Regions from separate parts of the Homo sapiens genome. Here region 2 is linked to region 1. Evidence: fine-mapped expression QTL. A gene starts in region 1. The other region holds a variant in brackets. All regions are shown on one strand. Distances are from middle to middle. Region 1 holds the start of FBXO36 (F-box protein 36). Region 2 holds the start of GCSIR (GPR55 cis regulatory suppressor of immune response RNA).

Region 1 (5,372 bases):
ATTCATCTAAATCTGGGGCATAATTTGGATAATATACAACATTAAAAAAATAAAGACAGGAGAAAGGGGAGGAAATGTACAAGAAATAATTTTAGAAAGTCATTCCAGAAAAAAAATCTATCTTATAAAACATATTTTAATGCTAGTCTTTTAGTACTTATTTATGTCAGGCCACCTCTTACTGGATGTTTGGTTTCCTGTGCTGAGACTCAGAAAAATTGTCTTGTGGTTAGAAAATAGCATATTCTCAAGGCAGTTGACTGAAAAGTATATTTTTTTGGCATGCCATTTTTTACAACAAATTTTACTTTAAAAAGAGGGTGAATTAATTAGCTTGGAGATTAACTCTCACTGGTAGAAGTGTAGTGGATTTATTCAGCATGCTTAAAAAAGAAAATGGATCAGAATTTAGGATTTTATATATATGTAACTGACAGAACCTGAGATAAAGGAGAGTTTTTCACTTGCAAAAAATAAAAAATAAATAAATAAATAATAAAAATAAAGAAAGAAAAAGAAAAATTAAGAACACTGAAGGGATGGTGGGAAAGATTTCTTAAAAAAGAGTAGTTAGGGCCGGGCGCGGTGGCTCACGCCTGTAATGCCAGGAGATAGAGACCATCCTGGCTAACACGGTGAAACCCCATCTCAACTAAAAATACAAAAAATTAGCCGGGCGTGGTGGCGGGCGCCTGTAATCCCAGCTACTGGGGAGGCTGAGGTAGGAGAATGGTGTGAACCCAGGAGGCGGAGCTTGCAGTGAGCTGAGATTGAGCCACTGCACTCCAGCCTGGGCGACAGTGCGAGACGCTGCCTCAAAGAAAAAAAAAAAAAGAGTAGTTAGAGGAAGGCATGCGCCTAAGTTAGACTTGAGAGCAAAGTCTGAAGAACACCAACAACAGAATTATTCTTTAGGAAGCCGAATGCCAGGGAGCACTCCTAAGGATAATTTACTAAAATAAAAAGGTAACAAGATACTCAGCCTGGTGAGGCTTACAAATGAGAGAAATGAAGCATACTTGTAAAATACCAGACCTTCAGGGGAAAGAAAATGCAAAAAAAGACAAATTTTTAAAGGCTGTAAAAATTAAAACATTCTAACTTACTTGAGGTAGATAAAAATAGAAAATCATGTAAGATTAGAACAGATTATATTTTTGACCACTCATGTTAGGAGGTGAAGAAATGTTAGGATCATAAATCTTAAAGCCAGCCAGGCTCGGTGGCTCAAGTCTATAATCCTAGCAATTTGGGAGGCCGAGGCAGCTGGATCACCTGAGGTCAGGAGTTGGAGACCACTCTGGCCAAAATGGCGAAACCCCGTCTCTATTAAAAATACAAAAATTAGCTGGGTGTGGTGGCGCACGCCTGTAATCCCAGTTACTCGGGGGGCTGAGGCAGGAGAATCGCTTGAACCCAGGAGATGCGGAGGTTGCAGTGAGCTGAGATCGCGCCACTGCACTCCAGCCTGGGCAACAGAGGGAGACTCCCTCTCGATAAATAAACAAACAAATCTTAAAACAAATGGAAAAATCAATAATCCGTTTAAAAAATGTACAAGGCCGGGCGCGGTGGCTCACGCCTGTAATCCCAGCACTTTGGGAGGCCGAGGCAGGCGGATCACGAGATCAAGAGATCGAGACCATCCTGGCCAACATGGTGAAACGAGGTCGCAGTGAGCCGAGATCGCGCCACTGCACTCCAGCCTGGCGACAGAGCGAGACTCCGTCTCAAAAAAAAAAAAAAAAAAAAAAAACAACACCAAAAAAAAAGTACAGAAAAGGATACCTTTCAGTATTTCATACATCACTAAATGTGCAAAACCCCCTAAGAACAGTTTAATTAAAAATTTGAGTCTGACCCTGGGCCCACTGCCTATGAATTAGCCCTGCTCCGCAAGGAGCAGTACTGTTTTAAAAAAAATTTTTTTTGGACAGGCTGATTTTACATTTGTAATATTTCTAAATCTTAAATTAAAAAATATATATTAACATTTATATTTTAAAAGATGCTTTCAAAAATATAAAAAAATTAACTCATTACCTATTTTGTTTAAGGGCTCCTGGAAAAACTGAGGGAATGATCAATATGCACACCAAAACAAATATATACAAACTTCTAAATTTCATTTTATAGGAATAGTATCTATTGAAAGGGCAGGGTGCATGAATAACTCAGTGACAGGCGTAAACTCAGCCAGGATTAGAAACGTCTTCCCAATGGAGGCCCCGCTCAAGTTGAGAATTTCATGGACACAGTAAATCATCCAAAAGCCCACCTTCAATAACCAAAGTAGGCATAAAAATAGGCCGATGGTTACTTTGGAGATAATATAATCCTCGGTCTTATTGTTGTGGAGCAGATGTCATTATGGGTGGGGCTGAAGCGCAGAGCAGCTGAAACATTTTTATACCACCACCCGCACACTTTCAATGGGATAGAAGGGACTCCAAAAGGTAAGAGCTCCCAATCGTCAGTTGCTACTAGAAATAACTAAGTTTTGATGTGGCCGTGGCACGCGTAAAGGCCACAAAGAGATTTATAAAATTCTCCATGATTAATTCCTATCCTGGAAAAGAGGCAATCTCCTTTTCCCCTCCCTAGCCGGCTCCTCCTTGGGACACTTGGCTGAGTCGTTCTTTCCCTCCTTCTCACGCTGAGGTGAGGCCGCACGCAAGCCGGAGACGCCCGTTTTCCTCTTCGCGCGGAGGAAACTCTACGGGTAAGAAGCCGGGGTGGCGGGAAAGGAGCACGCGGCACCGCGGGGAGGCAGAGAAGGCTTGCCAGGGACTAGCCGGGCTCGGGGAGAGCAGGGACACGCGGGCCGTCGGACCGAGGAGGCCGAGGTGACGAGGAAAATCTCCCGGCGCGGAGCCGGGACTGGGCGCTTCCGGCGGGCTACGGTTGCTCTTGGCCTAGCACAGCCTGCGTCCCGGGCCCCAACCGGGCCAGGTAGGGAGTTAGGAGAGAGGGTAAACCGCGGCTCGCACTTGCCTGAGACCGGGTGACCAGTAACTGGTAATAGTCTTTGCTAGGCGGCGGGCCTTGTCCTACAGTTTCAAAGAGAGTCTCCGGCAGCCACGACGCCATCTTGGGACGCCACCGCCGTCGCTAAGACAACCAGGAAGGGGCGGGGCTTGGTTGGGGTCAAGGGGCCAAAACCCTAGTTTAAATTGAACCACGCTTATGAGCTGGCAGAAGGATTTCTAACTTGGGGCGATCGTCCCCTCTTCCAAGGGTCTTAGGGAACCCTGATCCGTGAAATTTCCAGCTCCAGGTCCCGGGTGACCCGAGGGGGAATTAGTTCCTGCTACCACGGAGGGGAGGGGGTGACCCCGGCGGAGGGATACCAAGTAGATCTCCACAGTCCCCTTCCTGGTCCCTCGAAGGGATCGGGCGGAGATCGGAGGCTGCTGAGAGAGTCGAGCCGGGAGGCGTGGGAGGGAGGGGCGATGTGATGGGCCGCCAGTAGGCAGCGGTGCCGGTCCCGCGGACGAGCCCGTAACCGGAGCCCGAGGACAAAGTAGTTCCCCGAGGGTGTCAGAGCAGGCGGGGAGGGAGGCGGCACGGGCGGAGGCGCACGCCGGGCGCGGTGCTGCGGCTCAGCTGATAATTGAAGGAACCCGGAGCCGCCGCCGCCGCGCCGCTGGGGGGGGTGGGGGGAGCTAGTGGAAGTTACTGCCGCGCCACCGAGTCCGGACCGGAGACTTTGGGGCCTAACTAGGTAATTGGGGCGCAGCTCTGGGCGGCGGGGGCAAGCCTTGGGGGAGGGGGCCAGCTGAGGGGTTGGGGGGGCGGGGGGAGGAGCTGGAACAGAAAGTCCCAGGAAGCCCGGTTGTGTCATCGCCGCGATTCGGCCCCCGCTTGGCCTGCTCCCGGCGCCGGCGGCGGCGGGGCCGCGGAAGGACCGGGCCGGGGGTGGACGGGAGAGACGCTCGAGGGCGGCCGCGGCCGGAGGGACCGGGGCCTGGCGGGAGGTAGGGGTCGCTGGGTCCCTCCTCCGGCTTCCCGCAATGAGGAGGGCCCTTCACAGAACCGGGGTAAGGCTTGCGGGTGTTGGGGAGCTCGGCGGGGACCAAGGGGGGCCGGAAGTGGGCTTTGGAGCTTGGAGGGTGTCTGGGAAGAGAGAAAGTGGGGGGCCGGAAGTGCAGGTGGGGGGTGTGAAGACGGCAAGGGTTCCCCGGAAATGGGACGAGGGGCCCGGAAATCGGGAAAGGGGAGGCTCCGGGGCCGTGGACGGCCCGGAAATGGAAACTAGGAAGCAGCTCCAGTGACAACAGTTGTGGGAAGCGAGGGTCAGAGAAGGGAGAGGCCAGAGAGACTTTAGACCGCAGTAAGGGGTTTCCTGCCCAGGGGGACGGCGAGGGACGGTTGAGGGAGGGCGAGCCCGGAGACGGGGTCTGCGCGGGGCAGTTTTTTAAGCCGTGGGAAGTTGAGGCTGAGGGAGGATGATGACGAGGGGGGCATGCAGGGAGGCCTAAAGAAGCCGAGAAACTTGACTGAGAGGAATAGAGTATCCTTTTAAATAGATCAGAATGGAAATTGGTGGTAGGTGGGTTTAACTAGGACTTGGGGGAGGGAGGTGGGCCAATTGTCACCCCAATCGTATTAGCATTCAGAGCGAGTCAGGCGATTAATTTATTTATATGTGGATTACATAAAACCTATTATTTACAACGTTTGTCCATCAGTTCAGCCCCTCTCCTTCCTTCTCCATAGTGAGTGGGTTTCTAGTACAGGAACAAGTTAGAGGGGAGTTCGAATAACGAAGGTAGTAAAACCTCAAATCCTGTCTTCCTCGGCGTCTCTCCCTTCCTCAGAATAAGAAATCCTTCATTTCCTAGACGGAAAAATGCGGAAAAACATAAAAACACATGTAAATCGGGGGGAAATCACACTTTGAACTCCTGGTGGGGGACAGGAGGGAATTGGTTACCTTACGTGGTGAGGAGATAACGGAAGGGGCAGCTTCCAAACCCTTAAGACAAATGTTGTGTTTTTTTGATAATGCTGTTTTACTTTGGGGGAGGTTTAGCCTAAGCATCGAGTCTGGTGGTGGGCATAGTTTAATTGCTTCTTTAGTTAATTGGGGGAGGGAATGTGTTTGTGTGTAAAGGTTGGGCCGGTGCGGGGGGAGGCGGGTACGGTTAATAGCGCAGTGAATCCGTTCTAAGTGGACGTCTAACTGCTCTCCTGCTGTCTCCTTTCCTAGTCGCGGTCCTCGATCTTGCCTGGGCTGCCAGATCACCCGATCTCCGGGCTTTACTCCGTTTTGTAGGCCCTTTAGTGATGTGTTTAACTTTATGTTCCTCTCGAGAGTCTCATTAGGTATTTTTGGCATTTCATTTTTTAAAGACCTAGCAAGTTGAGTC
Region 2 (5,372 bases), 970 kb before region 1:
TAAAGGACGTGCAAAGGAGGCGACCTCAAACCAACTGTGCAACTCTTGCCCATCCTCCACTCCTGGCTGCTAACTGAAGGCCAAATAGAGAGAACATTTCTTTTTTTTTTTCTTTTTTAGAGACAGTTTCACTCTGTCACCCAGGGTGGAGTGCAGTGGTGAGATCATGGCTCACTGCAGCCTCGAGCTCCCAGGCTCAAGCAGTCTTCCCAAGTAGCCAGGACTACAGGTACATATCACCATGCCCAGCTGATTTTTAAATTTTTTTGTACAGACAAAAAATTTAAATGGCCTGTGTTTCCCAGGCTGTTCTTGAACTCCTGGCCTCAAGTGATCCTCGTGCCTCGGCCTCCCAAACTGCTGGGATTACAGGGGGGAGCCACAGTGCCAGCCAGAGAGAACATTTCTAAGGAGAGAATGATCACAGAGTCCGGCGCACCACCACTCTGCCTTATGCCTAGTGAGAGGGGCTTCACTGAGACTGCTGGGAGACCTGGACATGGGGCCTGGGAGTAATTTGGAAGGGAGCCCTGTGGACTGGGTGGGGGCCAAGCCCCTGGGGAAGCAAGTAGTGAGAGGCTGTGGCTGGAGCTGCCTGCTTGTTGCTTGGAGCACAGGACAAGAAGAGGTGTGTGCCAGCAAATAACCCATTCTGCTGGATTCTGTAGCATCAAAGGGTGTGTGAATGTTTCAGAAGCTGGTCTGAGTTACTTAGATCCAGTCCAAGAAAATGAAGCTGAGGGAGAGTTTGCCTGCATTGAGGTGCAGCTAGTGGTGAGGACGGGGACCAGGGACTCTCATGGAGCATCCACCTGAGGGAGGGTGAACTGGTGATGCTAGTGCTACAGTTTGGATCAATGTTGGAGGTGGGGCCTAATGGGAGGTGTTCTGGTCATAGGTTGGAACCCTCATGAATAGATTATTGCCCTCCTACAGAGGCAAGTGAGTTTCACTCCGTTAGTTCCCACGAGAGCTGGTTGTTAAAAAGAACCTTTGCCTCCCGTGTCTCTCTTGCTTCCTCTCTCTCCACATGATCTCTGCGTGTGATCTCACGCCAGCTCTGTTCGCCTTCTGCCACGAGTGGAAGCAGCCCGAGGCTTTCACTAGATGCCCAGTCTTCCAGCCAGCAGAATCGTGAACCAAATAAGCCCGTTTTCCTTATAAATTCCCCAGCCTCAGGTGTTCCTTTACAGCAACACACACCGACTAAGACAACTAGTGACCTCTCCTGCTCCGACGCCCGACGCCAAGCCCTCACGCTACTGTCCCAAACTTGGAGGCGCCGAGGAGCCTAGTGAAGGGGAGGAAAAGTAGAAGCATGAGGCAGGGGCATGGAGGAGAAACCCGCCAAGCTCCCCACGCGCCTTGTAGGCTTCCCATGTGGGCAGGTCTGGGATGGGGCAAGGGAGTGGTTTTAACTTCAAATGCCATCTGGAGTTTCAACTGTTTTGATAGTTAGATGTTGTAATTACTGAAATTGGATTTGTGTGAATAAAAGTTACCCAAGGGATTTTTATTATCTTGGATGGACCAGAAAAACCAAGAAACCTACCTTCAATTTCATCCAAGGTCAGAGGAGAACCCAACCCACCGACCAGGCTTGAAAAGGTAGTGGGAGAAAGAATTGTTTTCGGATTACACCCCACAAGGCTCCCGTGTTCAATAAAACTGTGACACAAACACTGGGAACAATTCTGGTGAATTTAGGAAGAAAGGAATTGATTGACGGGACACTGGGTGGCTCAGAGTCACTGGGTGGGCTGGAGAAACCACTTCAGCAATTGGGAGACCACAAAGGGAACCGCGGGCTCCAGAATGTGGAGATGATGCCACCACCTTCCTGATGCCCACGAGACTCTGTGTTGCTGTTGTCCCCTCTACCAGGATGCATTTTTCACTGTCCCCCTTCCTGAGTCACTTGTCCCTATGGCATGGTCTGGGTGTGATATGGTATGGCTCTTTGTCCCCACCCAAATCTCATCTCACATTGTAATCCCCGCATCAAGGGAGGAGCCTGGTGGGAGGTGATTGGATCGGGGGGCAGTTTCTCCCATGAGTCGTCACTCATGAGTTCTGGTTGTTTGATAAGTGTCTGGCACTTCCCCGCCGTGCTCTCTCTCTCTCTCCTGCCACATGTGAGACTAACACGTGCCTTGCTTCCCCTTCGCCTTCGGCCGCGATGGTAAGTTTCCAGAGGCCTCCCCAGCCACGTGGAACCGTGAGTCAATTAAACCTCTTTCCTTTCTAAATTACCCAGTCTCAGGTAGAATCTTCATTGCAGTGTGAACATGGACTAATACAGAGAGGAAACATCTGATTGGCTGAGCCTGGTCACATGCTTGACTCCAGCCCCAAGGGGCACTGGGAAAAACAGATTCAGCTTAACAACAGGGATATGTCCTGAGAAATGCATTGTCAGGCAGTTTCATTGTGTGAACATCGTAGGGTGCACTTACACAAACCCGCATGGCATAGCCTACTGCACACCTGGGCT[A/TA]TACATGTTAGCCTACATGGCATAGCCTACTGCACACCTGGGCTATACGGGTTATCCTGTTGCTCCTAGGCCACAAGCCTGTGCAGCATGTTTCTGTACTGAATACTGTAGGCAATCGCAACACAATGGTGTATCTAAACATAGAAAAATATCGTTCAAAATATGGTAGGAAAAATAAAAATATGGTACACCTGTGTAAGGCGCTTACCATGAATGGAGCTTGCAGGACTGGAGGTTGCTCTGGGTGAGTCAGTGAGTGGTTGGTGAGTGAATGGGAAGGCCTGGGACATTACCGACCACTGCTGTAGACTTTGTAAACGCTGTACATTTAGGCTACACCACATTTACGGAAGATTTTTTCTTTCCTCAATAGTAATGTAACCTTAGCTTACTGTACCTTTTTTTTCCTTTATAAACTTTTCAATTTTTAAAAACCTTTGGACTTTTCTATAATAATACTTAGCATAAAACACCAACACATAGAGCTTCACAAAGTATTTTCTTTGTACCCTTAGTCTTTTGTTCTTTTTTTTTTTTTTTGAGGCAGAGTCTCCCTCTTGTCACCCAAGCTGGAGTGCAATGGTGTGTCTCGGCTCACTGCAACATCCGCCTCCTGGGTTCAAGCTATTCTCCTCCCTCAGCCCCCCAAGTAGCTGGGATTACAGGTGCGCACCACCACGCCCAGCTAATTTTTGTGTTTTTAGTAGAGACGGGGCTTCACCATGTCGGCCAGGCTGATCTCGAATTTCTGACCTCAGGTGATCCGCCTGCCTCGGCCTCCCAAAGTGCTGGGATTACACCACGCCCAGTCCCCCTTTTTTTCTATTAAAAATTTTTTTTTTAACTTTTAAACTTTTTAGTTAAAAACTAGACACTAACACACACATGAGCCTAGGCCTACATAGGGTCAGGACCATCAGTATCACCATCTCCACCTCCACATCCTGTCCCACTGGAAGGACTTCAGAGGCAATGCATGCATGGAGCTGTCACCTCCTATGATGACAATGCCTTCTTCTGGAAACCTCCTGAAGGATCTGCTGAGTCTGTTTACAGTTAACTTTTTTTTTAATAACTAAAAAGAGTACACTCTTATTAGCAATTAAAAACACAGTGTAGTAAATACGTAAACCAGCAACATAGTTGTTTATTATTATTAAGTATTAAGTACTACACATAATTGTATGGGCTATACTTTTATATGACTGGCAGTGCGGTAGGTTTGTTTACAGCAGCATCAACACAAACACATGAGTGATGTGTTGCACTCTGACCTTACAATGGCTGTGACGTCACTAGGCAATAGGAATTTTTCAGCTCCATTGTAATTTTACGGGACCACTGTGGTATGTGCAGTCATTGTTGCCTGAAACGTCGTTATGTGGTGCATGGCTGCATAATAGTAGGTGGCTGGTGTCTCCCATCAAAACTGTTTTGGAGGGGCAAATCCTGAATACAGGAACGTGATTCAGATGATTGGCCCCTGGTGGGGAAGGGAGGGCAAAAATTAATATCTTTGAAAAGGGCAAACTGAAGTGATGACCGAGTTTACCTAGAAAATATCAAGATTACACATTCTGCCACTAGACTAAGGGAAGGTTTGAAAACTAGATTATTACACAAAACACACTATTATAGAAAAATAAAGATACCAATAAAGATACTTTGGACACCTGAGTTTGTGGCTATGAAATTCATACTCACCCCAGAGATAACGCGAGACACGAACAAAAGTAATCAATGAAAAACTGCTGGCATACTGACTGCTTGAACACTGTGGGCACTCGCTCAGTGTGGGACAAGCGTGCTGGCTAAAGTCCCTCCCCTTCCCTCCCTCCCCTCCCTGTCCTCCCCACCTCCCCCTGCCTCCCACCCCCACCCCCCACCCCATTACCTCACTGCTGCCAGCCTTCCCTTTCCCATCAGTCCTCCGTTAGGCGCAGAGCCCTGGCTCCTGCGGGGCCAGGCTGGACGTGGCTTCCAGTGACAGGGCCCTTTGTCTCACAGGTGGGAGGCTGGCGTGCGACCTTCATCGGCTCCCACGTCTCTGCCTCCGTGCTCTGGCAGCTGGAGTGGGTGCAGCATGCAGCAAGGATACGGAGATGCCATGGTGGGCCACCGTGACTGCCGACCCTTCTAGGACTGCACCCCCGTCAGTCCTGGCTGCCCCAGGCCCTAGACTCAAAGCCTCTCTTCCAGTCCCCACAGGGAACAGGGCCCCAGGAGGAGAGCAGGCTGCCCCCGTGCCCCGGGCCCTCAGAGGGTGAATTTGGACCTTTCCTGTTGTATTTTGCCCACTCTCTGACATTCCTCTTCCCCACCTTCAAAGCTCAAATGGTTCCCCAGGAAGCCTGCACTAGTCACTCTGATCTCTCCCTCCTCTGAACCCTGTGCTGCCAGGTCACATGCAAAACACGTGTCATTAAAGCTGGAAAAGACCTTCAGAATGACTTGGTCCAAACTCCCCATTTTACAGAAGGGCAAGTTGGAGCCCAGAGATGATGTTAGCCCACCACAGCTGTACAGATGCACCAGGGGACAATGGCAGAGTCCAGATCCCCGGGACCTCGGGACACAGGACTCCCTCCTTACTTCGGGGACACTGCATGTGCTGCCTTGGGTGGTCTGCTGTGCCTCCCCATGAGGGCACGTCCCATGGAAATGGGCTCTTTTTCTTTCCCAGGCAGAGAGCTGGAGGTGCCCAGGGCCCCACACCTGACATGGCCAGGGTGGGCAGGGACCAGTCCATCATCATTCCCTAAGCAGTTATTGGAGCTCTGAGGTCCCTGATAAGTAACACTCCAGCACCAGTGGGTGGTAACTCCTTCAGGCAGAAGGCTGAGCACGGTTTCCATGGAGACCGCCCAGGCTCTGGTTT

Evidence for each region. PIP is the estimated chance that this variant, and not a neighbour inherited with it, causes the effect.
Region 2: its variant is fine-mapped to the expression of FBXO36 in visceral fat (GTEx, PIP 0.92).

Annotation. Positions count from the first base shown.
Region 1 is chr2:229,920,232-229,925,603 of GRCh38, reverse strand. It overlaps FBXO36 (F-box protein 36), which reads right to left and starts at 3,101. Exons shown (of 4, transcript NM_174899.5): 1 at 2,995-3,101. The coding sequence starts at 3,090. TRIP12 (thyroid hormone receptor interactor 12) reads left to right here and starts at 3,595. Exons shown (of 42, transcript NM_001348323.3): 1 at 3,595-3,724. RefSeq lists enhancers at 2,823-2,882, 3,539-4,039, 4,040-4,540, 5,178-5,277 and a silencer at 3,713-4,102.
Region 2 is chr2:230,885,986-230,891,357 of GRCh38, reverse strand. GCSIR (GPR55 cis regulatory suppressor of immune response RNA) reads right to left here and starts at 4,812. Exons shown (of 4, transcript NR_038238.1): 1 at 4,389-4,812. The variant A/TA (reference allele first, on the strand shown) is at 2,495.